5 linked regions of the Homo sapiens genome follow. The protein of the gene in region 1 purifies or fractionates together with the protein of each later gene. This does not show direct contact. Each region holds a gene or a part of one and is shown in the gene's direction. Other genes may lie near its edges. The genes, in order: SDCCAG8, TPD52L2, LRRFIP2, ERC2 and MYH14.

The links.
Region 2: the proteins of SDCCAG8 (region 1) and TPD52L2 purify together in Homo sapiens (affinity purification with mass spectrometry, with the first as the bait; one large-scale study listed by BioGRID). This does not show direct contact.
Region 3: the proteins of SDCCAG8 (region 1) and LRRFIP2 purify together in Homo sapiens (co-immunoprecipitation; one study listed by IntAct). This does not show direct contact.
Region 4: the proteins of SDCCAG8 (region 1) and ERC2 purify together in Homo sapiens (co-immunoprecipitation; one study listed by IntAct). This does not show direct contact.
Region 5: the proteins of SDCCAG8 (region 1) and MYH14 purify together in Homo sapiens (co-immunoprecipitation; one study listed by IntAct). This does not show direct contact.

What each region holds. Positions count from the first base shown.
Region 1 is NC_000001.11:243,495,491-243,501,737, forward strand, and holds the end of SDCCAG8 (serologically defined colon cancer antigen 8), read left to right. Parts: intron 1-4,233; exon of another isoform or gene 4,234-4,252; coding exon of another isoform or gene 4,253-4,265; coding exon 4,266-4,295; coding exon of another isoform or gene 4,296-4,296; 3' UTR 4,297-4,601; downstream 4,602-6,247. UniProt on the Homo sapiens protein: Plays a role in the establishment of cell polarity and epithelial lumen formation. Also plays an essential role in ciliogenesis and subsequent Hedgehog signaling pathway that requires the presence of intact primary cilia for pathway activation.
Region 2 is NC_000020.11:63,874,015-63,880,210, forward strand, and holds part of TPD52L2 (tumor protein D54), read left to right. Parts: intron 1-1,801; coding exon 1,802-1,861; intron 1,862-6,196.
Region 3 is NC_000003.12:37,110,262-37,116,457, reverse strand, and holds part of LRRFIP2 (leucine-rich repeat flightless-interacting protein 2), read left to right. Parts: intron 1-1,362; coding exon 1,363-1,404; intron 1,405-3,477; coding exon 3,478-3,543; intron 3,544-5,392; coding exon 5,393-5,467; intron 5,468-6,196. UniProt on the Homo sapiens protein: May function as activator of the canonical Wnt signaling pathway, in association with DVL3, upstream of CTNNB1/beta-catenin.
Region 4 is NC_000003.12:56,460,887-56,467,082, reverse strand, and holds part of ERC2 (ERC protein 2), read left to right. Parts: intron 1-6,196. UniProt on the Homo sapiens protein: Thought to be involved in the organization of the cytomatrix at the nerve terminals active zone (CAZ) which regulates neurotransmitter release. Seems to act together with BSN. May recruit liprin-alpha proteins to the CAZ.
Region 5 is NC_000019.10:50,247,558-50,253,753, forward strand, and holds part of MYH14 (myosin-14), read left to right. Parts: intron 1-1,429; coding exon 1,430-1,582; intron 1,583-2,092; coding exon 2,093-2,266; intron 2,267-2,957; coding exon 2,958-3,131; intron 3,132-5,081; coding exon 5,082-5,196; intron 5,197-6,196. UniProt on the Homo sapiens protein: Cellular myosin that appears to play a role in cytokinesis, cell shape, and specialized functions such as secretion and capping.

The sequences.
Region 1 (6,247 bases):
GAATGGCCGCTGCCCTGCGATGGCCTTAACCGTGAGCCCCCGCCTGCTTTGCAGCTGGCAGAGCCAGGTTCCTGGAAAGGCCTGACCCGGAGGGGACGAGGCCCCTCAGTGAGAACTTCAGTCGCTGTGCTGGGGACAGCAGGGCCGCAGGGGCCTGAGGGTGGCTGACTGCCCCTCGGCTCTGTAGAGGAGTGCTCCCTTCTGACAGGTGGGCGGTCCTGCTCGAAGGCCGCGTTTCCCCGACGTTCTGCCCAGCATGCTGAGGGCACCTCTCTCCTCAGTGCGTTGGTGGCGAGCCAGAGCTCACGTGGCTTATTTCATCCAGGTTGCCTTCCCAATTTGGCAGCTTAATTCCGTAGATATCAAACTGGCTGCCCCTCATCTGCCAGAGCAAGCAGGAGAGCCTCGCATGGGAGAGTCTGGACTTTGAGGTCAAACTGCCTGGATTCGAATCTCAGCTCTGCGTTGCTTCAGAGACATGTGTTAGCTTTCATGTCACTTGATTTCTGGCAGAGAAAAAGAAAGAACCAGCTTCCCTTTAAAAGGAAGTGCCTCATATTACCCAGAGCCCAGCACAGATGATTATGAAACCAACAGGATTAGTGCTGAGATCATTGTGGGCTTGAAAGGGCCATTTGAGATAAATAACCATTTTGTACAGATAGAAAAATAAGGCCCAGAGAAATGAAGTGAATGGAATTGGGAAGTGGCTGGGCAGGGAAATGAACTTCTTCTCAGGCCACAGGATGTGTGGATGGGGGCAGGTACCCGAGCGGGTGCGGGCGGAGCCGGGCCTGGCTGGAACAGCTGCCGAGCCCTGGCCCCGGTGCCCAGAACACGAGGCGGAGGCGGGAGGCGAGCCACCAAGCGAGGCAGGGGCTGCCCTGGAGCTCTGTCAACTCAGGGCCAGCTTTGAAATGCCCCAGATGGAGGTAGGGGGAGGGGCCTGCCCTCTCCAGTTACAAATGGATGCTTTATTGCCAGACACACAAGGAACAGGACCACGTTTTGACTTGGCCAAACAGAGACAGCGTGCCAGTGAGCAGAGCGGACAGCAGGGGGGGAAGGGGTTGTTACCTTCAGAAGGGTTGGCTAGAGCCACCCACGGAGACAGTGAAGTGCGAAGCCCGGGCAGGTCTCCTGTGAGCAGGGGCGAGGGGTGCCACCATCTCCCCGGGCTGCCACTTCTGGCTGGTTTGGGAACAAAGCAGCAGCAAAGGCTGGCTGGACCCCACAGTGTGGTTGCCTGGGGAACAGTTCAGGTCACCCAGAGCAACTGATTTCTTACACTCAGAACTTAACAAACTTTAGAAATAAATGAGGCAGGGTTTGTGGAGAGATGACTCCGATAGGATTTAAAATGAGAACAAAGAAAATGGGTTAGCAGCTGTGTGCCTGCAGATGGGGGCACGTTTCCACCACCTGTGGACAGCACGGCAGGGGAGCAGTGGCCAGGGCGCCCTGTCGCCCCCCTCTGAGCTGCAGGACAGCCACAGGAGGGCCACAGCAAGGGCCATGATGACAAATGGAAGGGCAGAAGGACGGGAGACACTGGCTGAGGGCTCATGTCCCACTGGCATACGCACGCTCTACTCTCCTGGACGAGACCATGATCACTGTGGTGTTGATGACAGGACTTCCTGGAAATAAGCATCGTGGATATCCCTAATGGCAGACAAGCCAGATGTGGGCAGTAACTAAGGCTTCTGTCTCGGTCAGAGAAATGTGTGTTACCAAAGAGTCAGCAAATGGAGGCGACAAAACGGTGACCTCCTAGGACAAATTATCCAGCCCTCCAGTGCTGACTGAACGCTCACCATGGGTCAGGCACGGCTGTAGGCACGGGTGGGGGGGGGGGCGTTGAGCAGTGAACGGTAAGTTCAACAGTGTGAAAGTGGGGATGGATATGGGGCTTCTCACCTGAACCGCAGGAAATACAAAGCCCATAGAGATGGCCATGGCTGATCTGCCGCAGGAAGGAATCAGGCTGACTTTTGATTGGTTCCTGGTGAGGCCCGTACATCTGTGTCACCCCCATGCAGGCCCACGGAATCAGGAGGTCACCCGTTTCTGGAACAGCTCCGATAGTGATAAATTGCTAGGTGGCCTGGGAGCCCACAGGCATTATGTAGACTCATCATGAGAAATGCCTGTTTCCTGGAGCTTATCAAAAAATTCCGCAACACATTTTACTTTTACTTCAGGTCTTTACGCCTATTCTGTATTGTGTGTACGTGGGTGTGTTCTCTACCCAAAATTCATCACTGCAGCCTTGAATTCTGGGCTACAGCAATTCTCCTACATCAGCCTTTTGAGTCGCTGGGACTACAGGGGTGCGCCACCACACATGGCTAATTTTTACAATTTTTTTTGTAGAGATGAGGTCTCACTATGTTGCCCAGGCTGGTCTCGAACTCCTGGACTCAAGCGATCCTATTGCCCCAGCCTCCCAAAGCACTGGGATTACAGGTGTGAGCCACTGTTGGGTTGTTTTTCTTTTGAAGTGTTATCTGTTGGGATTTATGCTTATCCCTTTTGTATTCAGTCATCCTAGCATTTCTAAAGTTAGGAAGCCACTGTGTCAAGAGCGAGGCCACCAGGCCACCTGCCTTATGTGGCCAATCCATGGAGCAGGGGTGGAGGGCCATTCAAACCAGTCATTTAGCAGGACTGTGCTGGGTCAGTTCGATCACCTGGCCTGGAGGGCACGTCAGCTTGGTGCAAACCCTGCGTTTGACAATCAGATCGTGTTGGTGGCAGTCTCCGTGCTGTCAGTATCCCACTGAGGACAGAAGGGAGTCCCCTCTGCAATGGCAGGGCTCTAGGGCATAGTGCATGGGGTGGACTCCTCATGGGCCACTCAGACAGGGCCTGGAGAACAAAGCATCCCGTGGGCCCAGGAAATTGTCCACCTGGCTCCACGGGCCTGGGAGGGCTGTGTGCATGGGATGGCAGGTTTACGAGGAGGAGTGAGGCCTCCTGCCGGAGCCCCACCTGCATTCAGCCTGAGGCCAGGCCCCCCACCTACTCTAACTACCCTGCTGAGACCACCCCACTACTCACAGACCTGTTCAAGAAAAAGTTGTCCTCAGGGTCTCTCACACACTGGGAAATCTACTTGAAATGTAAACATTACTTTTTCTCATTTTTCATAAAAGGCAACAGGCTGATGTTCATATATTTCTCTTGAATGCGGATTCAGTTTCACTCATTGCCCTGTCTTGGAAATCCCCATGTTAATGATGGCTTAAATTAGGTTGATAGAGTCCTCCCTTGGAGTCCAGCTTGGAAAATCCTCACTGGAGAGGGGCAGGCCCACTTCTCTTTTTGGAAGATGGTTCCTAACTAAAGAAAGAGGGACCAGATTGGGCCCCTGGCCCTGCAGTGCGTCCCAATTTATCTGACGTAGAAACCGGGATTTGGAAAATACCATCCTGGCTTTTCTCTGGACTTCACAATCTAGAGGGCGAGGACTGTGGCCCAGTCACCTTCCCACACAGTGCACAGTAGAAACTCCAGACATGCTTTGTGGAGTGGAAACATTTCCAGTGGCTTCTGACTCTAGTTCCTGATGTGGTTTAAACTAATTTGGGCAGCCATGGCAGCAGAGGCCAGGAACAGTATTCAATACTTTCTGAACTTGTGATTCTCCCCCAACCTGATCTGCATGAAGCTACTTTGGAACATTTGTATCTGCGTAAAACTAAGAGACCTCAGTACACCCAATCCCCTCTTCCAACACATGTGAGGTTTCCATGTGAAAGTACTTTTTCATAGGTTACAATAAATTGCTTGCAGTTACAAATTTGGAGGTGTTTCAGCTTGTATTGTTTCACGAGGAATTTCTTAGGGGCACTTGGCCTACACCCTGTTTTTGTTCTAGAATTACCTGCCGTTAAGGTCAGATAAATTTTCAGTAAACAGATTATGGCACAAATCAATGTGTCCTTTCCCGGACAGAAGAGATGGCTCTCTGGCCATGTCCTAACACCAGACTGTCCTTATTTAAGAGGCAGGCGTGTCTTTTGTCTAGGTTGTCTTCAAATTTAACCCATTAAACCAGTTAACCTTATTTCATATGTGAAGGGCTTTGATGTGGACAAGATGAGGCACAAACTTTTCATATAATTTCCACATTTTTAGCAACAGGTTTTTTTCTCCAACAACAGTTTTCATCATAAAAGGTGACTAAACCAGCAAATGAGAAGACAAATAACATTGAAGAACATGAGCTATTGAAACTTACTTTTTATTATTTTTTCCAGTTACCCAGCATGCCACAATCTGATTGCTGACCTGGATGGAACAGAGTGAAATAAATGATTTACAAAGAGATATTTACATTCATCTGGTTTAGACTTAATATGCCACAACGCACCACGACCTTCCCAGGGTGACACCGCCTCAGCCTGCAGTGGGGCTGGTCCTCATCAACGCGGGCGCTGTCCCCGCACGCAGTCGGGCTGGAGCTGGAGTCTGACTCTAGCTGAGCAGAGCTCCTGGTGTATGTTTTCAGAAATGGCTTGAAGTTATGTGTTTAAATCTGCTCATTCGTATGCTAGGTTATACATATGATTTTCAATAAATGAACTTTTTAAAGACTTGAGTTGTAATGTTTCCTTTTTATCTTGTAGTGATGAACAAAACACACCAAAAAGGCACATATTTTAACTAGGCCAAAGTATATTAAGGACCAAACTTTTTTTCCTGCCATTCATTTTTCTTTTCATGATCTATATATCAATCATCCTTCACCTTTAATCAATGTCCCATCAGACTCCATTTTATTTATTTATCGTCCTACTTTGTGCACAATCAATCAATCAGGAGACACCAGGAAGCACTATGCATTACTCTTTCCATTCTGTTAAACAACGAAAACAGACAAAAAAGCATCTTTGGCTCGGTGGTGTCAGATTTTTTTCTTCAATACGCAGTATTTGAGAGGAGCCTAAAAACGTACTTAGTGAAATTAGAAAATTTACTTAGAGTATATCAAATATCTGTACACAGATAATTATTTGTCTAAAATAGTATTTCTACTATACACAATTAAGCCCTCAAATGCTTTAAAGTAATAAAAACGGACACTGGACATACCGTGTTGTATCTGAGAATGACAAACACTAAAGGCAAGGCTGCAGTTAGTTAGGACAGGTCCCTGACCTTCGGCTGCCCTGCCTGGCCAGCGAGCCATCATCCTCATCACCATCTCAACACAGAGCTGATGTCACCATATGCTCAGCCTTGCCTCTCAGAAGTGATGTGGATTAGGCTTTGGAGGCGGTGGCATGATCTACACACAGAGACCATTTGAATCTCTTGAGCATGTAAAAGGTTCAAGCCTGAAACAGTAGAACTTCTATTCAGATTCAGAAGTTTTTTATTTCATCAAATGTGCTAGACATAAAGGCTGTCACATAAGATATTTTAATTGTCCTTAATTCTGTTTTAGATATACTGTGAATAAATTATACAATATTCTAAAAATAGCACCTTTAAAGAATTATAGAGGTCACTTTTTTTTAGCCTCCTGGATCTGTCAACCCCAGTGGTTTTGAGAGAAGAGCACATGTGAGAATGCCCTCAAATTTGGCCGTGTGACATACACATACATGCTTGACTCACTCTGGTCCCAAAAGCCATTCCTCTGTCTGGCTTCGTCACAGGAGCAAAGCCAAGTTTCTACAATAGTAGCTTTATGAGGTAAAATCAGAAAAAGGCCCCATCCAGAATGATTCAACGTGAAGTCAGACTGCAGTCCAGCCATCCTACCCATCTACATCACCCACGTCTAAGTTTGTTAATTTGCCATGACATGTTGTTAGAAATACACTCTAAGAAAGGAAATATGCAGAGCAGTACATTATCAGGAAGACGTTAATGAAAAGCTACATTCCTTCAGATTCTGGGTCCAAACCGTGTGTTGTATAGATGATTCGGGTCTGAATGTCCCCAGGGTCTGAGACCTCCTTCATCCCTGGCTTCACAGTACATCCATCCTAAATCCAGTGCTGAGAGGTCAGCGTTTCCCCTCAGAAGCAGCCGTTCATCAAAGTTTGCACAACCGCACTACTGCCATTTCACTGAAGTAAAAATGATCCCCTATGTGTGTGTGTGTGAGCTACAAGGAATTATTTCTATATTTTCCTGTCACATTTTATACAAGGTAGGTTAATACCAGCTGGGGCTATTAAAAATCATGTTTTCATTAAAGAAGATTTAATTTGGGGGGATTATAGAACCA
Region 2 (6,196 bases), on another chromosome or scaffold:
CTACATGTGTTTTATTTATTTTTAAGTTTTTGTGTACTTTATTATTATTTTTTTTGAGACAGAGTCTCACTCTGTCGCCCAGGCTGGAGTGTAGTGGCGTGATCTTAGCTCGCTGCAACCTCTGCCCCCCGGGTTCAAGCGATTCTCCTGCCTCAGCCTCCCAAGTAGCTGGGATTACAGGCGCCTCCCACCGCGCCCGGCTGATTTTTTTTTTTGTGTGTGTGTGTGTGTGTGTGTGTGTGTTTTTAGTAGAGATGGGGTTTCACCATGTTGGCCAGGCTGGTCTTGAACTCCTGACCTTGTGATCCACCCACCTCAGCCTCCCAAAGTGCTGGCCACCACGCTGGCCTTTTTTTTTTTTTTATTATTATTCTTTTTTGAGATGGTTTCGCTCTGTCACCCAGGCTGGAGTGCAGTGGCGCAATCATGATTCACTGCAACCTCAACCTCCTGGGTTCAAGCAATCCTCCCAACTCAACCCCCCTCGTAGCTGGGATGACAGGCGTGCGCCACCATGCCTGGCTAATTTTTTCACGTTTTATAGAGACAGGGTCTTGCTTTGCTACCTAGGCTGGTCTCAAATTTCTGGGCTCAAGCAATCCTCTTGTTTTGGCCTCCTAAAATGCTTGGGATTACACGTGTGAGCCACCACATCCGGCTTATATACGTGTTCTAAAAAGGCAGACACACTGGCTAGTTGTCCTGGTGGAAAATGATAGGAAGACTGTTTCAGGGTCCAGACTTGAGAGAGCACTGATCAGGTCCTTGGCAAGAGCGGTTTTTCTGTGGTCCTTGTTGTGGGTGTGGCATGGTCACAGCCTCTGACCCAGATATGGCCATATGGGCCGGGCATGGTGGCTCATGCCTACAATCCCAGCACTTTGGGAGGCTGAGGCGGGTGTATCACTTGAGGTTAGGAGTTCAAGACTAGCCTGACCAACATGGAGAAACCCTGTCTCTACTAAAAAATAAAAAAATTTAGCTGGGCGTGGTGGTGCGCACCTGTGATCTCGGCTACTAGGGAGGCTGAGGCAGGAGAATCTCTTTAACCCGGGAGGCGGAGGTTGCAGTGAGCCAAAATTATGCCACTGCCCTCCAGCCTGGGTGACAGAGCAAGACTCTGTCTCAAAAAAAAAAAATATATATATATATATATTTATATATAGGACCATATGGTCCCACAACCCTAGGGACTCTGACCCTCCCCGATGACGACGTGGTCCTACATGACGACGTGGTCCTATAACCCTGGGACACCTGTCCCAGATGTCGCTCAGCTCTGAATTTGGGGAGTGCTGCTTTCTCACTTGGCCCTGTCCACGTGGCTTCTCTGAAACATACCCTTCAAGGTTGGGGTGGCTGTGGAATGTTTCCCAGAAGACATGTTCCTATACAAAGACAGAACAGGTCACATTTCATAAATCTCACATATGAGAGGCCCATGTTTTTGTCCTAGGACATCGTAAGTTTTGAATCCCAAGGGTGTTTTGGAGCTGTGGGCTGTGCCCTTCCAGTCCCCCACAGCAGTGCTGTTGCCCAAGAATCTCCTAGCGAGAGACCAGGGGCTACTGCCAGGTGACAGAAAAGGGAACATCAGTTCCGCTATACCCACAGCTCACCTGGCGGCCTGGGGCCTGCACAGGGCCTGGTTGAGGCAGTGGACCCCATTTTTGGGCCGTCTGTGGAGTTGATGTTCCTGCCAGCTGGTCCCTCTCTGTCTTCCCTGGAACTTCACCTGCAGTTTGATGCCTGAGTTAAAATTGTTCTTCTAAATAATTCACTGTAGACTTTCTGTTTTTAGCTATGTGAAAACTTCTGAGAAACTTGGAGAGTGGAATGAGAAAGTGACCCAGTCAGACCTGTGAGTGCCTGTATCATCAGCACCTCCTCCTTCCTCCTCTCCGCCTCCTGACACTCAGTCGGGGAAGGGGGCTGTGCACACTTGGCACAAAGCTTGTTTTGGTATTTGCTGGCTATTTTTTCTTCCTATAACTTTTCTTCTCTCAGGTAAACTATCCTTTAAACTTTTGTGGAACAGGGAATAGTAGCTGAGAGAAACTCACTCAGCCACCTGACCACACTTAAAACTCCCCTCTGCCTGATATGCGTCCCTTATGTAAGAGGCCTGCACTGGTCCTGGCTGTATCTCTAACTAATAGAGCTCCTTGGCTTCCGGCAGTGCACAAGCTGGACAACACCACTTGGCCTGGGTTTGTTGGTGGCGAATTTTTGTTTGTTCTAACCCTAACCCTTTTCCCTGCTTAGCTCCAGCTGTTGGGTTCTCAGAATTCCTTTCCTCCTTTAGGGGTAGTTCTTGAGTGGAGGGCATGGTGTAGGATATGCTGGTGGAAATTTGAAATCCTCACGATCTGGGAGGCACTGCATTGTCAGAGCATCAGCCAGTGTGGATCAAGTGTGGATAGTTTTGTATGTGTGTGTCAGTGGTGTTGTTCAGAGTGACTCCTAATATTTGGAGATCCTTAAACTAGATAATAGCACTTCATTTACTTGTGCTCTGATCTGATTATAACGTCTTTAAACTGAGGAGGGGAATATTTTTAAATAGTCTCTGTGGGATTTTTTCATCTGTTATTTAGAAGGAAGCGCTGTAATCGTTGCCACAGAACATGGGCAGAAAGTCCTCCCATGTTGGTCTGAAAGGAAGCAGTTGCTGCCGAGCTTGTCTTGAAGGTCCTGGGGGACCAGGCTGGCACTGCGTGCACATGGAGCCTTTGCGTCTGGTGTCACGGTGGGAGGCTGGTGTCAGGAACCCCGGGCGGTTCTCGGCATGTTGCCCCGGGTATTCCAGGGACCCGGGTGGTTCGTGGGCATGGCTACAGCAGCCAGCTGTACATCTGGGTGCTCTGGGGACCCGGGCGGTTCACGGCATGTTGCCCTGGGTATTCCAGGGACCCGGGCGGTTTGTGGGCATGGCTACAGCAGCCAGCTGTACATCTGGGTGCTCTGGGGACCCGGGTGGTTCATGGCATGTTGCCCTGGGTTTTTTTTGTTTGTTTGGTTTTTTTTTTGAGACAACGTCTCGTTCTGTCTCCCAGGCTGGAGTGCAGTGGCGCCATCTGGGCTCACTGCAAGCTCCGCCTCCCGGGTTCACACCATTCTCCTGCCTCAGCCTCCCCAGTAGCTGGGACTACAGGCGCCCGCCACCACGCCCGGCTAATTTTTTCTATTTTTAGTAGAGACAGGATTTCACCATGTCAGCCAGGATGGTCTCAATCTCCTGACCTCGTGATCCGCCTGCCTCAGCCTCCCAAAGTGCTGGGACTACAGGCGCCCACCACCACGCCCGGCTAATTTTTTGTATTTTTAGTAGAGACAGGGTTTCATGGTGTTAGCCAGGATGGTTTCGATCTCCTGACCTCGTGATCCGCCCATCTCGGCCTCCCAAAGTGCTGGGATGACAGGCGTGACCCACTGCACCCGGCTTGAGCAGGGTGTTCTAGGGACCCTGGTGGGCTGTGTCTCGGGCTGTTGAACAGTGACTTTGCTGGGCAGCAGATGGTTCCTAGGTTGGGACAGTGACGGTCATCCTTGCAGTTTGGGCATCAGGCGGACGCACAGTGCAGACTCAGTCTGAAAATAGTCTTAGGAGACTTCAGTGCTGTTTTGTAAAACCAACTGACATAAAGCTGCCGGGATCCTATTTCAAATAAATAGTGTTTTAGAGAGCTTATTACAACACTCAGCGTCCCGACCCCTCTGGAGAAACCTGTGGCTCAGCATGGAAGCATATGGCCAGTGCATCACCTGGCCGAGGCCATTCCCCTGAGTTCTGTGGCGAGAGCTGTCAACTGACGGTTCCAGAGTGGAAGCGTTTCTGCCGGGAAGGCCCAGGCCGAGGGCGATGGTTTCTGCCGGGACGGCCCAGGCCGAGGGCGATGGTTTCTGGTGGGAAGGCCCAGGCCGAGGGCGATGGTTTCTGCCGGGACGGCCGAGGCCGAGGGCGGTGGTTTCTGCCGGGACGGCCCAGACGGAAGGGATGCGGCTTGGGAGGTGGGGCCTGAGGATGTGGCCATGGCGCGTGCTCTTCCTGGCTGGTGCCTCTCCTAGTCAGCTTCAGGAGATGGGCTGTAGATGTACCTCCACTGCCCAGAGCTCTGCAGGGGAAGGCAGTAAAAGCTCCCTGCATCCTGACCCACGTGTTTGTAGATCCTTTCAGCTATTGGCGCCCTGGAGGATGGACGGGAAGGAGAACGTGGCCGGTGGGTGGAGGATAGCACTGGTGCCTGGCCCCATGAGGCTGCAATGCGGCCACATTCTCAGTGGGTCATGTCTGAATGCGAGAGCAGCTGTGTTCTGCGAGTGGTGAAACAATTGCCTGTTGCATTCTATTTATAGGCAGAGGTAACTAAAAACCTCAGTGCTGAGAGGGGCATCATATAGATCCTGCAGTTATGAGCTGGTTCACTTGGAGTTGTTTTGGTTGCAGGTGACAGAAAGCACGACTCAAGGTAGCATCAACCAAACAGGGAGGTGGGAGCACTCACCAGGCAGAGAAGTCCCTGCCCCCACTGCTGCAGCCCAACAGTGTGGCCCCATATGGGTCTCCCTGGACTAATGGCTGCGGCCTTGGAGGTGGTGTGCTCTGGCCAGGCCTGGATCACTTGTCCATCCTGAGTGGGAGTGGGGGCAGCCCCCAGAGACAGACTCAGGAGAGGGGGAGTGCAAGGATGTCCCCCAGATGCCCTGTGCTGCCCAGGGGACAGCTCACTGGCAGTGGGACGAAACCGCTGTCTGTCCAGGGCTCTCTTCCTAGAAGGTCTTAGGAACTCCCAAATGGGTGCTGGCTGGGGTTGCCCGGCCCGGTGCTCTCAAGGAGAGCTGAAGCTAGTTATTGGGTGCAGATGCTGGCTCTGACCCCTGCCCCTTCCTCCCGGGCTCAGCTTCCCCATCTGTCATGGAGTAATAACAACCCAGCCTTCTGGTCCACTGAGGAATGTGTGTGCCTGTGTGTTTGACGCTCTCAGAACAGGCCTGCAGCGCTGTGAGCCTTGGAAGGGGGCCTCACAGCTGCTGCCGCCACCTTGGAGGCCCAGGATGGGACTGAGAAGGGGAAGGGAGAGGTCAGAGCCACAGCTGTTGGGCAGGGACCTGCTGTAGGAAGAGAAGGCCAGGGAGGCGCTGGTGGTGGCCTCAGGCTATGCAGGTGATGCCCATTGTTTCCAGGGCCATCCCAGTTTGGAGGTTCCTGTTTCTAGAGGAGGTTCCCTTGTGACCCCCTCATTTCCACACCCGAGCAATGCTGAGGGCTGTGGGGCCCCCAGGGGCTTGAGTGTGGTTTATGGCACAGCAGGGACTGATCACAGTGGCACCGGGTGTCAGTGGCCAGTGGTCAGTGGCCAGGAACCCTCAGGACCCTCCTCCTTGTGTGGGTGGCATTTACCCACCCACAGGTCACGCTCAGGACCCGCATCTCATTCCGATCCTCCTTGTGTGGGTGGTACTTACCCACCCACAGGTCACGCTCAGGACCCCACATCTCATTCTGAAGGCCGGGCACAGGCGGTTGTTTTCTCTCCAACTTCGGTTTCCCCATCCCCACTCTTAGGGCACAAATGCAGGTGTAGCTTCCCCATGCCCACTCTTTAGGCACAAATGCAGGTGTAGCTTCCCCATCCCCACTCTTAGGGCACAAATGCAGGTGCAGCTTCCCCATCCCCACTCTTAGGGCACAAATGCAGGTGCAGCTTCCCCATCCCCACTCTTTAGGCACAAATGCAGGTGCAGCTTTCCCATCCCCACTCTTAGGGCACAAATGCAGGTGCAGCTTTCCCATCCCCACTCTTAGGGCACAAATGCAGGTGCAGCTTCCCCATCCCCACTCTTAGGGCACAAATGCAGGTGCAGCTTCCCCATCCCCACTCTTAGGGCACAAATGCAGGTGCAGCTTCCCCATCCCCACTCTTTAGGCACAAATGCAGGTGCAGCTTCCCCATCCCCACTCTTTAGGCACAAATGCAGGTGCAGCTTCCCCATCCCCACTCTTAGGGCACAAATGCAGGTGCAGCTTCCCCATCCCCACTCTTTAGGCACAAATGCAGGTGCAGCTTCCCCATCCCCACTCTTTAGGCACAAATGCAGGTGCAGCTTTCCCATCCCCACTCTTAGGGCACAAATGCAGGTGCAGCTTCCCCATCCCCACTCTTTAGGCACAAATGCAGGTGCAGCTTCCCCATCC
Region 3 (6,196 bases), on another chromosome or scaffold:
GTTTTTAAAATGCTGGTTGAGGGCAGGGTACGGTGGCCTCTGCCTGTAATCCCAGCCCTTTGGAAGGCTGAGGTAGGAGAATTGCTTGAGCCCAGGAGTTCAAGACCAACCTGGGCAACATAGCAAGACCCCATCTCCTAAAATTAAAAAAAAAAAAATTAGGTAAGTATGGTGGCATGTTCCTGTAGTTCTGTAGTTCCAGGTACTTGGGAGCCTGAAGTGGGAGGATCACTTGAACCCAGGAGTTCGATGTTGCGGTGAACTATGATCAAGCTATTGTACTCCAACCTGGGCAAAAGAGTGAAACCCTGTCTCAAAAAAAGCTGGTTGACCCTACTAAGTTGATTTTATGAACTACTGATGAATTGCAACCTATCCTTATGAAAACGTTACTTTAGATTGGGTTTTTGAATAGTATTGCTTAAAATTTTAAATGAATATAAGAGTTGGAAAAGAAAGATATTTTTATCAAACAATTAGTATTTAAACTACCTGAGGAACTTGTTCATTGCTTTTATTTGTTTTGTATATGACTTTCTGGGTAGACAGCTTAAAAATATAAACTAGAATGCTTAAGAAACGATGTGTGAAAACCATAAATCTATGTAGTTACTATTTAGTTTTTCTTCCCTGGATTTGAAATGTGGTATTACATATCTTACTTTTAAAAAGGATCCTACATGAAATGTGGGTGTTCTGGTCTTACGAGTTTTGTATATTTTTCTTTGATTTATATTCAGTGTCACACCTGTATGTATACTGTGCAGTTCACACATTGACCAGATTTCTCAAAATGAGAAATCGGCATTTTCTTGAGGAAGGACATTCTTAGGTGTTTGTTCACAAGCAGATCCAAGGGAATGTTCCCCATCTTGGTGCTGCAATTGTTCTTTTGTAAGCTTGACCATGCTTGTTATGTCAGCTTGCCTCATTGCCTGTTCATCCTTTGCTTTTGCCATTTTTCAAACAATAGGAAATGATGTTAAAAGTGATAATAATTTTCTTAAAAAGCATTTTTGACTTTAGAATGCTTAATTCTTGTATTTAAAGGCTCCCTTAGGATGTTTTGTGCTATAGTGTACTGAGATTGAATCATATCACTATTACTGATTATGAATTTTGTTGTTTAAAAGAAAAATAAACATACAGTTTTGAATATACATACAGTTTAGCAATACTTTATACTAGGAAAAAGTAGGAGGAAGAATATTTTTTAATTCAACTGGATTAGCTTTCATGTTTAATAATTTTTTATTTTAAAATAGTGCTGGATTTTTAAAATAACCTCAAATATTACTTCTTCTCTTCTTTATATTTCTGAATTTGGAAACAAACCAACTTTCATGTTTTGCTGAAACCCAGTATGATATGTTCAAGGATAGATCATCAAGACTTTCATCATTAGTATGTAGCACATGACTTTGTGTTATATGTGGAATTTTACTTTATAAACATCTGTTGATGCTAATTATAGAATATGACTAACTTTCATGGCTTTGTTATGAACTTTTGGGGAAAATGTGTGACTAACAAAGCAAAAAGCTAATGTTTTGTGGTTGTGGCATGAATAGTAATTTTTTTCTTTAGGATTTCAGAATTAGACACAAGTTATTCTTATCTATTGAGGACTAGGATTGGTAGTAATATCTTTTTTTTTTTTTTAATTTTAAAGATGGGGTCCCTCTCTGTCAACCAGGCTGGAGTGCAGTGGTGCAATCATAGCTTACTGACTGCAACCTTGAACTCCTGGATTCAAGGGATCCTCCCACCTCAGCCTTCTGAGTAGCGAGTACTATAAACATGTGCCACCATGCCCAGCTAATTGTTTTATTTTTTTTGTAGAGATGGGGTTTTGCTATGCTGTCCAGGCTGGTCTCGAACTTTTGGTCTCAAGTGATCCTCCCACCTTGGCCTCCCAAAGTGATGGGATTACATATGTGAGCCATCATGCCCAGCTGGTAGTAATATATCTTTTCTTAAAATGATGAGCCACCCACCTAACATATACTCATTGTCATTCTAACACTGTTAGAAACTTGTCTTCATGTTGAGCACAAGCCCAAATTGTGTTTTATGTCATATGTCACAAAGCTGGCAGGTGTGAAGTTGCTAGATAGAAAACATCCAGTAGTGTTAGAGGACACCTAAGACATCAGTTATGTCCAAACATTTTGGTTTGATTTGGTTAGTTTTTTATGGTATGTCATTAACCAAGGAATTTAAGTTATAGCTTGTTTTTCTTGGGTTAATATTTTGTCAATAGGTTGCCTGAGTTTCTAAATTACATAGACATCTCTTAAAATATTCAGAGTAATGTATAAAAAGATGCATATTCAAAAAAAAAAAAGTAAAATGAGTTTTTAATCATTGATTGGGAATACAGCTATATATATGTGAGATGGTTTACCTAGAGCAGTCTGTTGCCTTTGGCTCTTGATAGGTAGGGCACTTCTAGCCACACTCTCTTATTTCAGGCAAGTAGTACGTACCTAGATTAGATTTCTTATCTACCAATTTACCTATTTAGTAGTATTGCTAGCCTTAATTTCCCCATATGTACTTGGCTGTGTACTCCTAGGAAAAGTTAGGTATTGAGACAATCCTGTCTTCAAGGGACCCTTTTATAAGGTGACCATTTATGGTATGCTGGGCAATCCATACCATGTTGGTTGTTTTCCTCCTGAGCATTACATACTGTGGATTCACTAATTTGGGTTAAGAGTACTGTCTGGGACAGTTTAATGTCATGTTCTTTGTTCTCTCAGTCCTGTTTTAATTGTTCCAAAAGATTGCTTTTTGACCTTTAGGTAAGGAAGACTATAGAAGGAAATGAATTATCTTGTTACCTATACCCTTAGCCAGGAGTGGTGTCTCATGCCTGTAATCCCAGCATTTCAGGAGGTTGAGGCAGGAGGATCACTTGAGGCCAAGAGTTCAAGACCATCCTGGACAACATAGCAAGACATTGTCTCTACCTGTTCCCCCAACCCCAAATTAGCTGGGTGTAGTGGTACATGCCTGTGGTCCTACCTACTCAGGAGACTGTGGCAGGAGTCCAGGAGTTCTAGGCTGCAGTGAGCCATGATTGTACCACTATACCCCTGTCTGGGTGACAGAGTGAGACCCTGTTTCTATTGAAAAAGAAAAAAAAGAAGTCAGAGGGACTCAAGTGTGGTGTGAAGGTCTCCACAAATATTCTGCCTGGTTCTTAGTTCTAATCAAGTTTTCTTTAGCTGGCCAGACACACAGATGCTTGGCACAGAGGGAGGTGAGGGAGGAATGCAGATGTGTAGAGAGGCCAGGTAGACTAGCTAGTAAAGTGCAGTGAATTGTTTACTAACCTTTGGGAAATAAATTGCATGTAAACTATTGTGTATCTCATATAGACCTTTGTGTATATAATTTGAAGATGAATTTTATTATTTTCATAACTTCGCTATGCAATCATTGAAGTTAACTTGGAATATTTACTTCCAGAATCATTCTTACAGTCACTCTCATGGAATGAAGAAGAGGTCTTCTGATTCTCATAAAGACCTACTGGTTAGTTCTGTTGTCTCTCATATCACAATTCACGAAGTACTGTTAGGAACTTAAGGATTATGATTGCTTTGGTGTGCTACTAGGACATTATTGAAACTTGATAATCTGCTGAAACATGATTTATCAGAAATTTAAAAATAATTTTGTTTTCATTTGCAAGTTTTAGTATTAACATATGCAAACCCTAGCAGCCAGAGTTAGTACTATATCACAAGAAGCTCATTAACAAGTATTTTCATTTATTAATTGTCCTTTGGAATATACCTCAAGAATAGGTTTAGTAAGATTCTCATCCTTATTTTAGGAATTTGAATTGATTTAGTTGTGGTATTATGGGCCGTAACTAAACTCACAAATAGGTTTCATTCTAAAAGTTTGTGTTTTGGGAACTTGGAATGCATTTTCTAGTTTCTTCAATAAATATGTAATGGCAAAGTTTCCATACTAGCTTGCTGAAAACTCTTTAACCTATAATGTAATTAAACTGCAGAATTAATATACTCTTTATTCTAGTCACTTTGTGAAACAACACTTCTTTTTTCTTTTTCTTTTTTTCTTTTCTTTTTTTTTTTCTTTTTTTGAGATGGAGTCTCGCTCTGTCTCCCAGGCTGGAGTGCATGGCGCGATCTCGGCTCACTGCAACCTCCACCTCCCAGGTTCAAGCGATTCTCCTGCCTCAGCCTCCCAAGTAGCTGGGATTACAGGCATGTGCCACTCTTCCTGGCTAATTTTTGTATTTTTGTAGAGATGGGGTTTTGCCAGGTGATCTGCCCGCCTCTGCCTCCCGAAGTTCTGGGATTACAGGCATGAGCCACAGTGCCCGGCTGCTAAACAAATTTCTGTGAGGAAAATAATGTCTCCAGAATGCCCACTTGGTACATTGGAAACACCCATTTCCTGTTAGGCTGCAACAGTACTGGCAAAGGAAGTGCAGTCCCAACTCCTTGCTAATTCAGGGTTCCCATGGGTTGAACGGGGAGAGGGTTGGAAGGCTTTGGTTGGTACAAGGGAGGAGAGAAGGGAGAATGTAATGGGGAGGAAATTAACGAGAGGCCCTGGAAGGTAGGGTCTTGGGATCTCTGGGGAGAGGTGAGCCTTAGGTGCCTAGTTGAGGGTGTGAGTGGGGAGTGAGGAGCGGTGTGGGAAGGCAGGGCTAGGGGTGGTAGGGATGGGGTGGGAGTAGGGATGTCCTCAACTCCACTGTCAACACTGATGGAGTCTTTAAGTCAGAGATTGCCTAAATTTGCTTAACCTTGAGTAAAAAAGTTGGCTAGAGAAGTTGGGAAGGGAATTTTATAGATGGTTTTCTCTCCCTCAATTAGCTATAATGTGTACTATTGTTTATTTTGTACATTGTATAAATGAACCTGCCGTAAGTGTTTTAGATCAAACCATATTTATCGTACTCTCTCTTTCATTTTGGTAACTTAATTTGTCAGTTTATTTTGACAAGTAATGGGACTAGGAAATGTTTGGAACCAAATACATAGCTCTTTAATAACTTCTGTGGCTTTGCCAGATGGATTGTAAAACTGGTAATTATTCAGTTGTCCAGGAGTGTTCAAGGACTTTCTTAAGTATGGCATGAGAATAAATTGTTTTCATTCCATTTTCTCTGAGGGTTTATTGTCTTGTTTTTAAATTTAAAAATTTAGTAATGTCTTTGTTTTAGGGGCTTGAAATAATTGTCACTTTGACTTAATGTGATATGATGATTTAAAAACATTTTGGAGAAGAAGGGATTTGGCAATATCATATTTTGCCTTTTTGTGTTCAGTTTTGCCTTTGTGTGTTGTTAGGTTATTAACATTTAGCCTAAGAAAAATGTGTTTAATTTTGCTTTTTGCAGAGTGGCCTCTACTTTGACCAGAGAAACTATAGCAGTCTTAGACATAGCAAACCCACCTCTGCCTACTACACTCGGGTTTGTCTAAACTTTTTTGGCTTTATGTGTTTGATTCACTTTTAACATATTTCTAATCTCCCCATTTTGCATTTTGACTAGCTGTAACTAATCTGTAAATGGCTACGTATATACTAGTTTTTGGTAACTGAATTTATATAGTCTGTGGGAGTCTCTTTAAACAACGGGAACTATTCAGTCATCATGTTTATAAATCAGTACCATTAAAGACATTTTTAAATAAAGATGTTTAAATGTACAAAAAAAGTTCAAGGAATAATACAGTGAACATCACATACCTATCATTTAGATTATATAATTCATTATATTTCCTTTATCACATAATTATCTATTTGACCCTCTAACCATCAATTCATCTTAGTTTTTGATACATTTCAAAATAAGTTGTAAGCATCCATATACTTCAGAGTGGGTACCCTTTTAAAAAAGCTTACATATAAAAATGTAAACACGTGGCATGAGAAGAATGTAATTATTTAATGTTAGAATCTCTTGTTTTTTTAAAGGCATTTGACACATCATACATTTAAGACACATTAAGTGTATGGCACACAGTACATTTAAAATAATTTTGTTTAAAAAACCTGCACACGCAACTTAAGTACTCTTATTTTTCATCTCTGATTGGGTTTGGTGAAAACTTGAAAAGTATGTCCTCAGATGACATCAGGAAAAGCAAGATTTAATTCCTTTAAAAACATGCTGTGTTCTTTTAGTGCATGGATTCAT
Region 4 (6,196 bases), on another chromosome or scaffold:
GACTTTTAGAAGCAAGTATATTTGACCTGTGTTTCCTTGTCCTCCCCATCCCTTACCCACCACCCCCCTGATTATTAGTTGTAGTAGTTGCGGATGCCGAGGCCACTGGCTTAAAAATGAAAATGAATCTGTGTAAAGAAGGAATTGGGGGAGGGGGTGTTAGAATTGCCCACCTATTTCTCCAGAATTGCAGTCTTTATAAGAGACAACATGTACCGTTGAGCTATCCGGGAAAAGGGTGTGGCACTTTGTCTCCTATGGTCACTCTTGTCCTTGTAAAGTCACATTGTTTCTCAGTATACAGTACTTGGGGCTTGGCTCTACTGGATGGATTTATAAGGTATTTTTGGAGCCGGCAAACGTTCTTTATGGGGAGTCACATGAATAGAAGGGATTCTTTTAGTTCTGACAGTTAACTCAACTTCTGGAAGTGAGGGCTGCCTTGTTCTCTTTTGCAGAATGTCAGTTCGGTGGTGGTGGGGTCAAGCCATTTTCTTTCCGGGGAGTAGTAGAGTTTGCCTTTTTCTCATGTAAGCCATCTTGTCTGTTTGCTTCTGTGCTTTAATAAAATACTTTTACAGTTTTGGCAGGGAGGGGTGTGGAAGGTGATGGTGTCATGGTTTTCACCAGCAAGACTTTCACGGGTGGATGAATCATGGGTGAAGGACCAGATCCATCTCAACTCACTACTAGTGAAAGCCTGATTTTTCAACACCCTTCTCCCTGAATTCATTAGAAAAATTACTGATTGATCCAAAGAGCTGTCACTTTATAGAAGTTGTACCTGGATGTGAACATAATTCTGTGAATTAAGCCTTTCATAAACAGACTGTGAGCCAGAATATACTGATTAGAATGGTTTTCATGTAGAAGCCGGGTTTGTCAAAGCAGTATTATTACTATTACTATCATCATCATTGTTATTGCATAGGCAAGCACTTTGTTGAGTACTTTATATGCATTATCTTTTTTAAACCTTGTGGAGCCCCTGTGAGGTAGGTACTATTCTTACGCCCAAATTATAGATGAGTAACTAGAAGGAATTCAGTATCTTGCCACAGTTTAGTATGAAAGCAAGAACCTGAGCCCGGGTTCGTCTTACCCAGAGCCCATGACCTTGGCCGTGGCCTTGACTTCAAATTTTGGTTGTGTAGTCTGCATGTGTCCAGTCTGAAGTGTGGGTTCTCCCAGCATACGTAGAGCTAACCATTTTAAGAGTCCACTGTGATTCTGACAGTCCTTTTATCAGCCTGTTTTGCCTTTGCATTTGAAGGCTGTGGCATGGGCCAATAGGCAAATTTAGTAACTCTGTTTATTATATATTTCCAGTAGAAACATAATAAAATATAAAAAATATAACACATAATAAAATAAAAATTTTGGCTCGATAAAAATTTGGTTCCAAACTTAATGATGATGACTTAAAAGAAGGTAAAACAAAACAAAATTCACACTCTTCCATTTTTCTTGACACCTTAAATTTCCAATTAGAGTTTTAAATAGATCTTGGTTGAATAAATGCTCTTAACATCCTTCAGTTGTCTCCCCACCAAGGGATTAGGGTTTTATTTTCTTTGTTATTTACAGAGACCCTTTTCCATTAGTGATTAGGTATAATGATATTTAAAATTATTCTTTTGTAATAGCATGACCGTCTTGTTTTATTTTATTTTTTATTGTTTTTTGAAATGGAGTCTTGCTCTGTCACCAGGCTGGAGTGCAGTGGCGTGATCTTGGCTCACTGCAATCTCTGCCTCCCGGGTTCAAGTGATTCTCCTGCCTCAGCCTCCCAAGTAGCTGGGATTACAGGTGCCCGCCACCATGCCTCTCTAATTTTTGTATTTTTAGTACAGACTGGGTTTCACCATGTTGGCCAGGCTGGTCTTGAACTCCTGACCTCAGGTGATCCTCCTGCCTTGGCCTCCCAAAGTGCTGGCATTACAGGTGTGAACCACCATGACCGGCCCCTCTTGTTTTGTTATGTTGGAAAAGCTACAAGATGTAAGCCTTATCAGTCTCTTCCCATTGGTGAAACTCAGTGGTGAAGGTTTGCCAAAACAGGTATCCTGAAAAATAAGGTGAATGGTATTGCAGTCCACAAATTTACCTAAAGAGTCTTTGACTTTGGTTAGGTTGACTTTTGTACAATCTGCATTTGCTTGTTTTACTAGGACACCCTCTAGCCTTTTTTTTTTTCTTTTTTCTTTTTTTAAAATCCTCTAACCAGTTAACATTTTGGCTGGTCCGTGGGGCATCTACTTGCCAGCCAACAGTTTCAGTTTCAGCAATGTTTACACTATTCCTTTATATTTTATTGTGATTTTCTTAGTTTAGAAAGATAGGATGAATGGAAAGCACAGAAAAGCACCAATATTCATGGTAATGTAGATCTCATAAATTTAAAATAGTTGATCCAAAGGTAGAACTCACTGGATGTACAAAACATGGAGACTCTACAACCTCTTCTTCTTATGTGAAGAAAAGGAACAAAATGAATGAAGATATAAGACATGCTAACATATATCAAATGATAAGATATATTAGTCAGCTTTGGCAGTGTAACAAAACTCCCTGACTTACAGCAACAGGTATTTATTTTCACACTCATGGGTCTTCAGGTTGACCGTGATTTGGCTGGTATAGGTTGGGCTCCTTGGGGTGGCTGTGTAGAGGCTGTGGGTTGGGTTCCAGTCTCCTCCACATGTGTCCTGGGGCCCAGGCTGAAGGGATGGCAGCTACCTGGGGCATGCTTTTCTCCTGGCAGATCACTGGAGCCAAGAGGCAAACTACACGAGCAAATGTCACTTTCACTAATAACCTGTTTTGGAAAAGTACTATTTTGGACAACACTTGTCTGTAAACGTAGACTCTGTTCACAGTAAGGGAGCGAATATTTGATGAACTATCATCCAGCTTCCAACAGCATGTAAAAATTATGGTTAGAGGATTTTCTAATTTTTTCTTTTTCTTGGGGAATGCAATTTTCATCCCCTCACTCCCATTGCTAGCTGCGTGACATATAAACCTGGTCCTTAACTTCTGCATTTCAGGAATATTCTCTGTTTGATTTTAGAGGGCTGGCTATAAAACAGGTTTGTGTATACACATGAATTACTTAAATTATTAAGGCACTATTTATTAGAACCTACTGTGTTCCAAGAGACAATGTTCAGTGCAGTGGTGAACACAGTTTTATTCTGATGTGGGTCCTGCCACCATGAAACTTATCATTAGGAATAGGTGTAAGGAAGGACTTCTTGGATGCAATGGCATTTTCCTGGACCTTAAAGCAGGGAGAGAGTTGGAGATGCAGATAGAGCAATGGATACCATAAAAATGTAGGGGCACACATGGATATAATGAGTTATTCCACTTGGCCAGAGAGTAAGAAAGGTGAATTACAACAACAATAATAATTATAACACTAGTATTTATAGCTTAACTTCTATTGGGCAGTTAACTATGTGTTAGGCACTGTGCTTAGCACTTTCCATAAGATATTTAATATTGGGTAGGCTTGCTGGTTGCCTACCCAACATTCATTTTCTCCTTTCCAACTAAAAGAACCCCAATTTTGTCTGAGATGGAAATAAGCCCACCTCACCTTCCCAAGACTCCCTTGGACTTAGAGTGGCCATGAGAGTTGGGTCTGATAATGGCATAGGTGGAAGTTTTTGGGTGGAGGCTTTCCTGAAAATGTAGTGAGTGAGACACACGTGGGTGGTATACTCCAAGAACTTTTCAGCTCTTTAACTTCTTGCTGCTGAGATCATTGGTGCAATGCCTGGAGGGGCAGCAGCCAACTACAACAATGAAGATAAAGCCATGGTTTTTGTTTTTTTTTGTTTGCTTTTGAGACAGGGCCTCACTCTGTCACCCAGGCTGGAGTGCAGTGGCACCGATCTCAGCTCACTGCAGCCTTGACTTCCCCGGCTCAAGTGATTCTCCCACCTCAGTCTTCCCAGTAGCTGGAACTACAGGTGCGCACTACCATGCCTGGCTGATTTTTGTATACTTTTGTAAAGATGAGATTTCCCCATGTTGCCCAGGCTGGTCTTGAACTCCCGAGCTCAAGTGATCTGCCTGCCTTGGCCTCCCAAAGTGCTGGGATTAGAGGTGTGAGCCACCATGCCCAGCCAAAATCGTGTCTTACAAATGGCAAAGCTGGAGCCTGGAAGGATCTTGGTCTTGGTGACATCGTTCATTCATAGTACCAGCTTAGACTGCCTTCCCCTGTAGTTCTTATTGCATAAAACTAAAAAGCTCTTTACTTGTAAGCCACTACTTATTACTTGCAGCCGCACATACTCCTCACTGATACATACCTTCTCAAGAAAACCCTCAAAGTAGGTGCTATCACCTATTTTGCAGGTGAGAACATTAAAACTTAGAGGGGTTAAGGACTTGCCCAACCAGTAAGTAGAAGCATTGGGGGTTCAAAACAACATCATTTTGACTTTCAGGATCATCATCTTGCCTCTGGCTGTGCAGGACAAGTACCATAGTGGAGATAATGTTGGAAAATTAGGCTGGATTAAGATTTAGGAGGCATCTGGATTCCTGGTTGAAATATTTGAGTTTGATTTCATGGGCTAGTGAGTATAAAGCCATTGAAAAAGACAGAGACCAGAGGTTGGGAGACCACTGAGGCTTGAGTGCATGACATACATGCTTTAGTACGAGTGAAGGTGGAGGGAAAACTGGGCATGAAACAGAGCTGGGGACATGAGAAGATAATGGAATTGAGTGAACCCAAATCATAGTTGCTGTTAACCTATGATCATCTGAGAGCAAAATGAAAGTCTCCTGAAGGCTAGTATTCACTTCTACTGATGGCTTCACATTTGCCCAGAAGTAGGGAATGAGTAATGTAGAGAATTGCTAATGAGATATGAATCACTATTTCATGCTGTGGGGTGGGGTCTTCTACTCATTGTCAATACCATTTATTGAGCCCTTGACGACCTTGTATTAAATGACTTTGGTCTGGGTCTGGCTCCACTGTGCCAGTTAAAGGTAGCAGAGATGAAGGGTAAGGTCAGAAGGTGCTGCAGTGGTACATTAGATTCTGTCCATGGACTTATTTCTGCTAAACATTCTAGACCTTCCTTGAGGGGTAGATTGGGGTTACTTTAACTGTCTGTGTCTCCTTTTTTTCTTCTCTTTACTTTTTAAATTTGTAAAATAAAGGATTTGGTTTACATTCATAGTTTTCAAATGTTTTTCAGCTGTTAAAACTTTGTTTCCTAAATAAAAATTTATCTGGACCCTCAGTATATTTATAGAAAGCAGAGCTGTTCTGGAAATTTAGGGTCCAGATTTATGTTGTATGAAGTGTCTTTATGTTGAGGCCACTGCTCTAAAATGACACCTACACACCCTTCCTGGTTCATGATTATGTGAATCTTATAGCTGTTCAGATGTTTTATTTGTGCATCATCTTTAACAAATCCCTTTGTTATTCCACAGGTTGTGTCTTAATATCATCTGTGGTAGAGACTGTTAATGTTCCCCATAGCCACTTTTTCTTTCCTTCCAGGCATATGTTGGAGGTGGCTTGCATCACTTCCATGCTAGAATATTTGATTTCCAGTGTGAGAGCACCCAGTGCCCTCTTCTACTGCAATGATTACGGAAATGTGTGTTGAGATGGAGCCCTTCATCTGCCTGGGCCTTTCAGTCACTAAATGAACACAGCTTCCCGTCAACTGGAGTTGGACATATAGACCAAGAAGTAAACTTTGGTTGTTTTAAGCCATGAAGAGTTTTGTGATTTTTGGTTTCTGCAGCACTTTTCTGCTTATCTTTACTGATACACCATCTTTGAGCACATCTGCTAAACTTTATGTAACTTACTTTTTGGGTGCCTTCTGGATTAACCTGAAGCCTGGCCAGCTTGTCCTTACTTTGTAGTTAGGAAAAGAGTGGGCTGGCATCTACATCCGCTGTCCGTGCTGGTCTCTGTGCTAATAGATTCTTTGAATTGAAAGCTTTATGCTCAATAACATTTGTTTTCATGCTTAAAAAGTTCCTGAAGACATATTGTATAGTGCACCTCACTGTTCTTTAAAAAAAAAAAAAAAGCCTTTATGCCATCTTGCTTTTTTTTTTTTTTTTTGTATTTTTAGTAGAGACGGGGTTTCACCGTGTTAGCCAGGATGGTCTTGATCTCGTGACCCCGTGATCCGCCCGCCTC
Region 5 (6,196 bases), on another chromosome or scaffold:
ATGGTATCCTAGAAAAACAAAAAACAAAAACCCAGGATGCTTTTAGATGGTGAGAGCACCTGTGAAGGGGAGGTTTTGTTGGTCAGGAAAGTCCTCTCTAAGGAAGCTCTAAGGATGAAACATTCGAGATGAGACCTAGATGGTTCGAGGCAGACGGAACCGCAAGTGTAAAGGCCCTGGGGGTGGAGCAGGCTTGGGGAGTTGGGAACATTAAGCAGGTCAGTGAGGCCGGGTGTGGGGGCTCATGCCTGTAATCCCAGCTCTTTGGGAGGCTGAGGCGGACAGATTGAGCTCAGGAGTTCAAGATCAGCCTGGGCAACATGGTGAATCTCCGTCTCTACTAAAATACAAAAATTAGCTGGGTATGTGGCACACGCCTGTAGTCCCAGCTACTTGGGAGGCTGAGACACGAGGATCACTTGAACCTAGGAGGCAGAGGTTGCAGTGAGCTGAGAGCACGCCACTGCACTTCAGCCTGGGTGACAGAGCGAGACTCTGTCTCAAAAAAAAAAAAAAAAAGAAAAGAAAAAAAGAAAATTGAAGGAGGTCAGGTCAGTGAGGCTGAAGAGCAAGGGAGAGAGGGTGGGTGAATCCACAGTCAGAAATGTCAGCAAGGGGCAGATCATGCAGGGTCTTAGGGGCCACAGTAAGGAGGTGAGTTTTATTCAAACTACATAGGAGGCCATTGAGGTTTTAAGCCAGGGAGTGACTTGATTCAGTTTGTCTTTCATAGAAAGATCCCCTTGGCTGCTGCATGGAGAATTGGGTTCAGGGATGCAGGTAGAGGCGGGGAGACCTAAGGAGGCTGCATCCAGAGTCTTGGCAATCGTGGGAGCTCACACCATGAGCAGGGAGGGTGGAGTGGAGCGACCACAGGCCAGGGAGGGTTTCAGAATCCAGCTTTTGGGCAGAGGCCTCTGCTGGCCCCAGGCTGGGCAGTGAGGTACCTGGATGAAGACCCCGTGGGGGAGATGAGGAGTCTGGGAGCCACACTGACCCGGGTTCAATCTCAGCTGGGGTACTGTTGTTAGTTCCCATTTTACAGAGGAGAAAACTGAGGCACAGAGAGGTTTATTCACATGCCTGAAATCACACAGCCCCTAAGTGGCAGAGCTGGGATTCAAACCCAAGTTGTCCGGCTCCAGAGTCCACGCTCTTAACCGCTGTGCGGTAGAAACTGCTTTGAGGGGGTGAGGGAAGGATTCAAGGGCTAACACATCCGAGCCCGTCATGTAGTACCTGGTGCGCAGTAGGACTTCAGGAATGTCTGCCTGTTGTTCATGGCATTGTTCTTGATGGTACTTACACTCAAGGAGCTGGGAGGCGACCTTAAGGGGGACGAGCTGGGGGCCCTTCCCCGGTTCACCCCCGACGTCTTTCAGTCTGCTGATGTGCAGGCTGCGCCCTTACCATGAGCCCTGTCCCACAGGCTGACTTCGCGCTGGAGGCCCTGGCCAAGGCCACCTACGAGCGCCTCTTCCGCTGGCTGGTTCTGCGCCTCAACCGGGCCTTGGACCGCAGCCCCCGCCAAGGCGCCTCCTTCCTGGGCATCCTGGACATCGCGGGCTTTGAGATCTTCCAGGTCCACCCTTGTGCTGGGAGGGGGATGCCAACTTCCTCACTCCGGTCCTGGTCCTTTCTGAAGCCCTGGGTCTCTCCCCTTCTCCCTGGTCTCTGTCCCCCTCTCTCTCTCTGAGTCTCTGTTCCCCCCTCTCTCTGGTCTCTGTCCCCCTCTCTCTGGGTCTCTGTCCCCTGTCTCTGGGTCTCTGTCCCCTTCTCTCTCTGGGTCTCTGTCCCCTGTCTCTGGGTCTCTGTCCCCCTCTCTCTCTGGGTCTCTGTCCTCTCTCTCTGCATCTCTGTCCCCTGTCTCTGGGTCTCTGCCTCTCTGTCTCTGGGTCTCTGTCCCCTGTCTCTGGCTCTGTCCCCTGTCTCTGGGTCTCTGTCCCCCTCTCTCTGGGTCTCTGTCCCCCTCTCTCTGGGTCTCTGTCCCCTCTCGATGCATCTCTGTCCCCTGTCTCTGGGTCTCTGTCCCCTGTCTCTGGGTCTCTGTCCCTCTCCATCCTCCCAGCTCACGTGTCCTGCGTCCCTGCAGCTGAACTCCTTCGAGCAGCTCTGCATCAACTACACCAACGAGAAGCTGCAGCAGCTCTTCAACCACACCATGTTCGTGCTGGAGCAGGAGGAGTACCAGCGTGAGGGCATCCCCTGGACCTTCCTCGACTTTGGCCTCGACCTGCAGCCCTGCATCGACCTCATCGAGCGGCCGGTGAGCCCCAGGCCCCTCCCAGCCCACACTCACGGTTCAGATCCGTCTCTCCCAGCATCTGCGAGACCAGGGTCTAGCTCCTCCTCTGCTGGGCCTCAGGATGCCCCATGGGTTCTGTGGGGAAGGTGACAGCACCTGCTTCCTCGATCTTTTGTGACCATAGGTGATTAGGGCCCAGAATGTGCCTGCCACAGGGCCCGGCTCAAATCAATCGGTTAATCAGAGCTCTCACCGTAACTGTTGTTCTCACGTTTGTTTTTTGTTTGTTTGTTTTGTTTTGTTTTGTTTTTTTCTTGAGACGGAGTCTCGCTCTATCGCCCAGGCTGGAGTGCAGCGGCGCGATCTCTGCTTACTGCAAGCTTCGCCCCCTGGGTTCACGCCATTCTCCTGCCTCAGCCTCCCGAGTAGCTGGGACTACAGGTGCCCGCCACCACGCCCGGCTAATTTTTTGTATTTTTAGTAGAGTCGGGGGTTTCACTGTGTTAGCCAGGATGGTCTCGATCTCCTGACCTCGTGATCTACCCGCCTCGGCCTCCCAAAGTGCTGGGATTACAGGCGTGAGCCACCGTGCCTGGCATCTCACGTTTGTTTTTATGTCCAAGTGTGACTTATAAGAGCTAAAAATCAGCAGCCACCTGAGTGTCCAATATGTGGGGATCTGACTTACTCTCCCCCTGCTGTCAATGGCCAGGCCAACCCCCCTGGACTCCTGGCCCTGCTGGATGAGGAGTGCTGGTTCCCGAAGGCCACAGACAAGTCGTTTGTGGAGAAGGTAGCCCAGGAGCAGGGCGGCCACCCCAAGTTCCAGCGGCCGAGGCACCTGCGGGATCAGGCCGACTTCAGTGTTCTCCACTACGCGGGCAAGGTAGGGGCTGGGGCCGGCCTTGGGGCATGTGGGAGTGGGGATCAAGGGATCTCCACTGGCTACAGATGGGGGGAGGGTGCAGAGGGAAAACAGGGTCCTCCTGAGGTCCAGACAAACAGAGCAGGGGCTAGGAGAGCCCAGGGAGGAGCAAGGATTCTGTCTGATGGGATCACCAAAAACTTCCTCAAAGAGGTGATATTTGCAGTGGGTTTTGAGGGATGGGTAGGAGTTCATCAGGAGGCGATCTATGTGCATTTTATCCACTTATTCAGCAGATATGTGCGGGGTGCCATTTGTGTGCCCAGCTCGGGGCCGAGCAAAGCTGGATACACAGATCAAACATGGTTTCTGTCCTCACAAAGATCCCTATCTGGGAGGGAGGCAAATACAGACGATCAGGATATAAGGTTAATAGGTCTTTCAGTGGAGGCAGCTGAGGGTAGTGTCAGAGCCCAGAAGAGAAGTACCTGGGAAAGCTTCACAGAAGAGAATATGCTCAATCTCAAATCTCAGTCAAGGGCCGGCAAACATTTTCTGTAAAGGGTCCGATAGTAAATAGTTTCAGCTTTGTGGGCCAGACGATCTCTGTCACAGCTACACAATTCTGCTGTGGTCACACAAAAAGAGCCACAGATAATACATAAGTATCTTCAAGCCCCCAGGGAAAAAGAAAGGAAAAACAGACTGAGAAACAGTTTCGAGGGCTCTCTTGCCCCCAGAAGGGCCCCCATGAGTTTGACTATGAAGACATAAATGAAGGTTCTATTCCTATATATATATACACATATATATATACACACATATATATATACACACATATATATATACACACTACACACACACACACACACACACACACACACACACACACACACACACACATATATATATGTATTTTTTTTTATTTGAGACAGAGTCTCCCTCTGTTACCCAGGCTGGAGTGCAGTGGCACGATCTCGGCTCACTGCAATCTCCGCCTCCTAGGTTCAAGCAATTCTTCTGCCTCAGCCTCCCCAGTAGCTGGGATTACAGGCACCTGCCACCATGCCTGGCTAATTTTTGTATTTTTAGTAGAGACAGGGTTTCACCATGTTGGCCAGGCTGCTCTCGAACTCCTGACCTCAGTTGATCCACCCGCATAGGCCTCCCAAAGTGCTGGGATTACAGGTGTGAGCCACCGCGCCCAGCCCTATTCCAGTGAAAGTATTTGCAAAAAGAGGTGGCAGGCTGGATTTTGCCTGTGAGCCATAGTTTGCTGACCCCTGGTTTTGATGATGTGGACCAGGCAGCCCCAGAGGATGGGTGAAGGGTGGGAAGGGCTCTCCAGGCAGAGGGAACAGCATAGACAATGGCTGGGAGGCAGGAGATTCCATGTGTTCTGTGTCTAGCCCTCAGTTTCTTCCCCAGACATACTCCAGAACTCCCCCTGTACCCAGCCCTCTGCTAGGCCGTGAGTCAGACCTGGGCCCTGCCCTCGGGGGACCGCTGTCTGGTGGGGGGCACATATGCAGAGAATTGTAGCGGCCAAGATCGTGACTCTATGGAGCCCCACAGCAAAGCCCTGAGTACCCAGAAGGAGCCAGTGGTGTGAAACCCACAGAGACAGAACCCCAGGTGGCAGGAACCGCAGGGGTAAAACCCCGAGGTGGGAGTAAGCTCGCATGTTTGAGGAACAGTGCGGAGGCCAGGGTGGCTGGAGCGGAATGAATAGGAAGAAAGTGGTGGTGGTGGAGGTCACAGAGGTGGCAGGGGGCATAGAGGGGAAGGAGAGAGAGGGGACCATGCTGGTGGGGTGCAGTTCAGAATATGGACACAAGGTGGCACCAGTGCTCGCTTGTCCATGGTGAGCTCCAGACCTGGGAGTCTCAGAGCTTCTGGAAGGCTCCTTAGGAAATCCAGAGAATGTCTGAGCCTGCAAGTCATCGCCCTCCTCTACCTGACTTCATTCAGGTCGACTACAAGGCCAACGAGTGGCTGATGAAAAACATGGACCCTCTGAATGACAACGTCGCAGCCTTGCTCCACCAGAGCACAGACCGGCTGACGGCAGAGATCTGGAAAGACGGTGAGGACCCACTTCCCCCACCCCGGCTCTAGGGGTCTGTGCGGCCATTCTCCAAATCCACAGCGTGAGCACCTTTGTTTCAGAGGCGGAGGTCTGAACCTGAGTTTTCTGCTCAGACCCAGAATAGCCAGTGTCACAAATAGTATTTCAAATCAGTGATGGATGGATCCATAGATTAATTGATTGACTATTGATTTGATTGATAAGCCAGCATCCTTCTCAAGGATAAAGCACTCCGCCTTAATCAGAAACGTGGCAAAGATACCCACTAACACTACTGTTAAACATCGTTTTTTTAGCAATACTAGCCTATGCAATCAGACCAGAAAAAGTATGAATATCGAACAGGAAGAAGTAAACTTATTATTTTTAGATGGCCTGTGTTCCCTAAACAATTAGGAGATTTGGCTGGGCATGGTGGCTCACACCTGTAATCCCAGCACTTTTGGGAGGCCAAGGTGGGCGGATCACTTGAGGTCAGGAGTTCAAGACCAGCCTGGCCAACATGGTGAAACCCTGTCTCTACTAAAAGTACAACAATTAGCCAGATGTCCTGGTGCATGCCTGTAGTCTCAGCTACTAGGGAGGCTGAGGCAGGAGAATCGCTTGAATCTGGGAGGTAGAGGTTTCAGTGAGCCAAGATTGTGTCACTGCAATCCAGCCTGGGTGACAGTGTGAGACTCTGTCCCAAAAAAAAAAAAAAAATTCTACTGAGAAATAATTTATAACAATAAGAGAACACAGAATGATGATCTTTTGCAGGTCAGTCAACTTTTAGGCTTTGCTTTCTTTGTTTTCTTACAAAGTTCCCTTCACGCCCCCAGGGAAGAAGAAAGAAAAAACAGACTGAGATACAGTTTTGGAGGGCTTTCCTGCCCCCAAAAGGCCCCCATGAGTGTGACTGTCTTTTTGGATTGACACTTCTAGGGGTCATAGGCAGAGATGCCAAATGCCCTGTGGTAGGACTCTGACCTTTTCCAAGCCTTTTCTGCCACTGCCC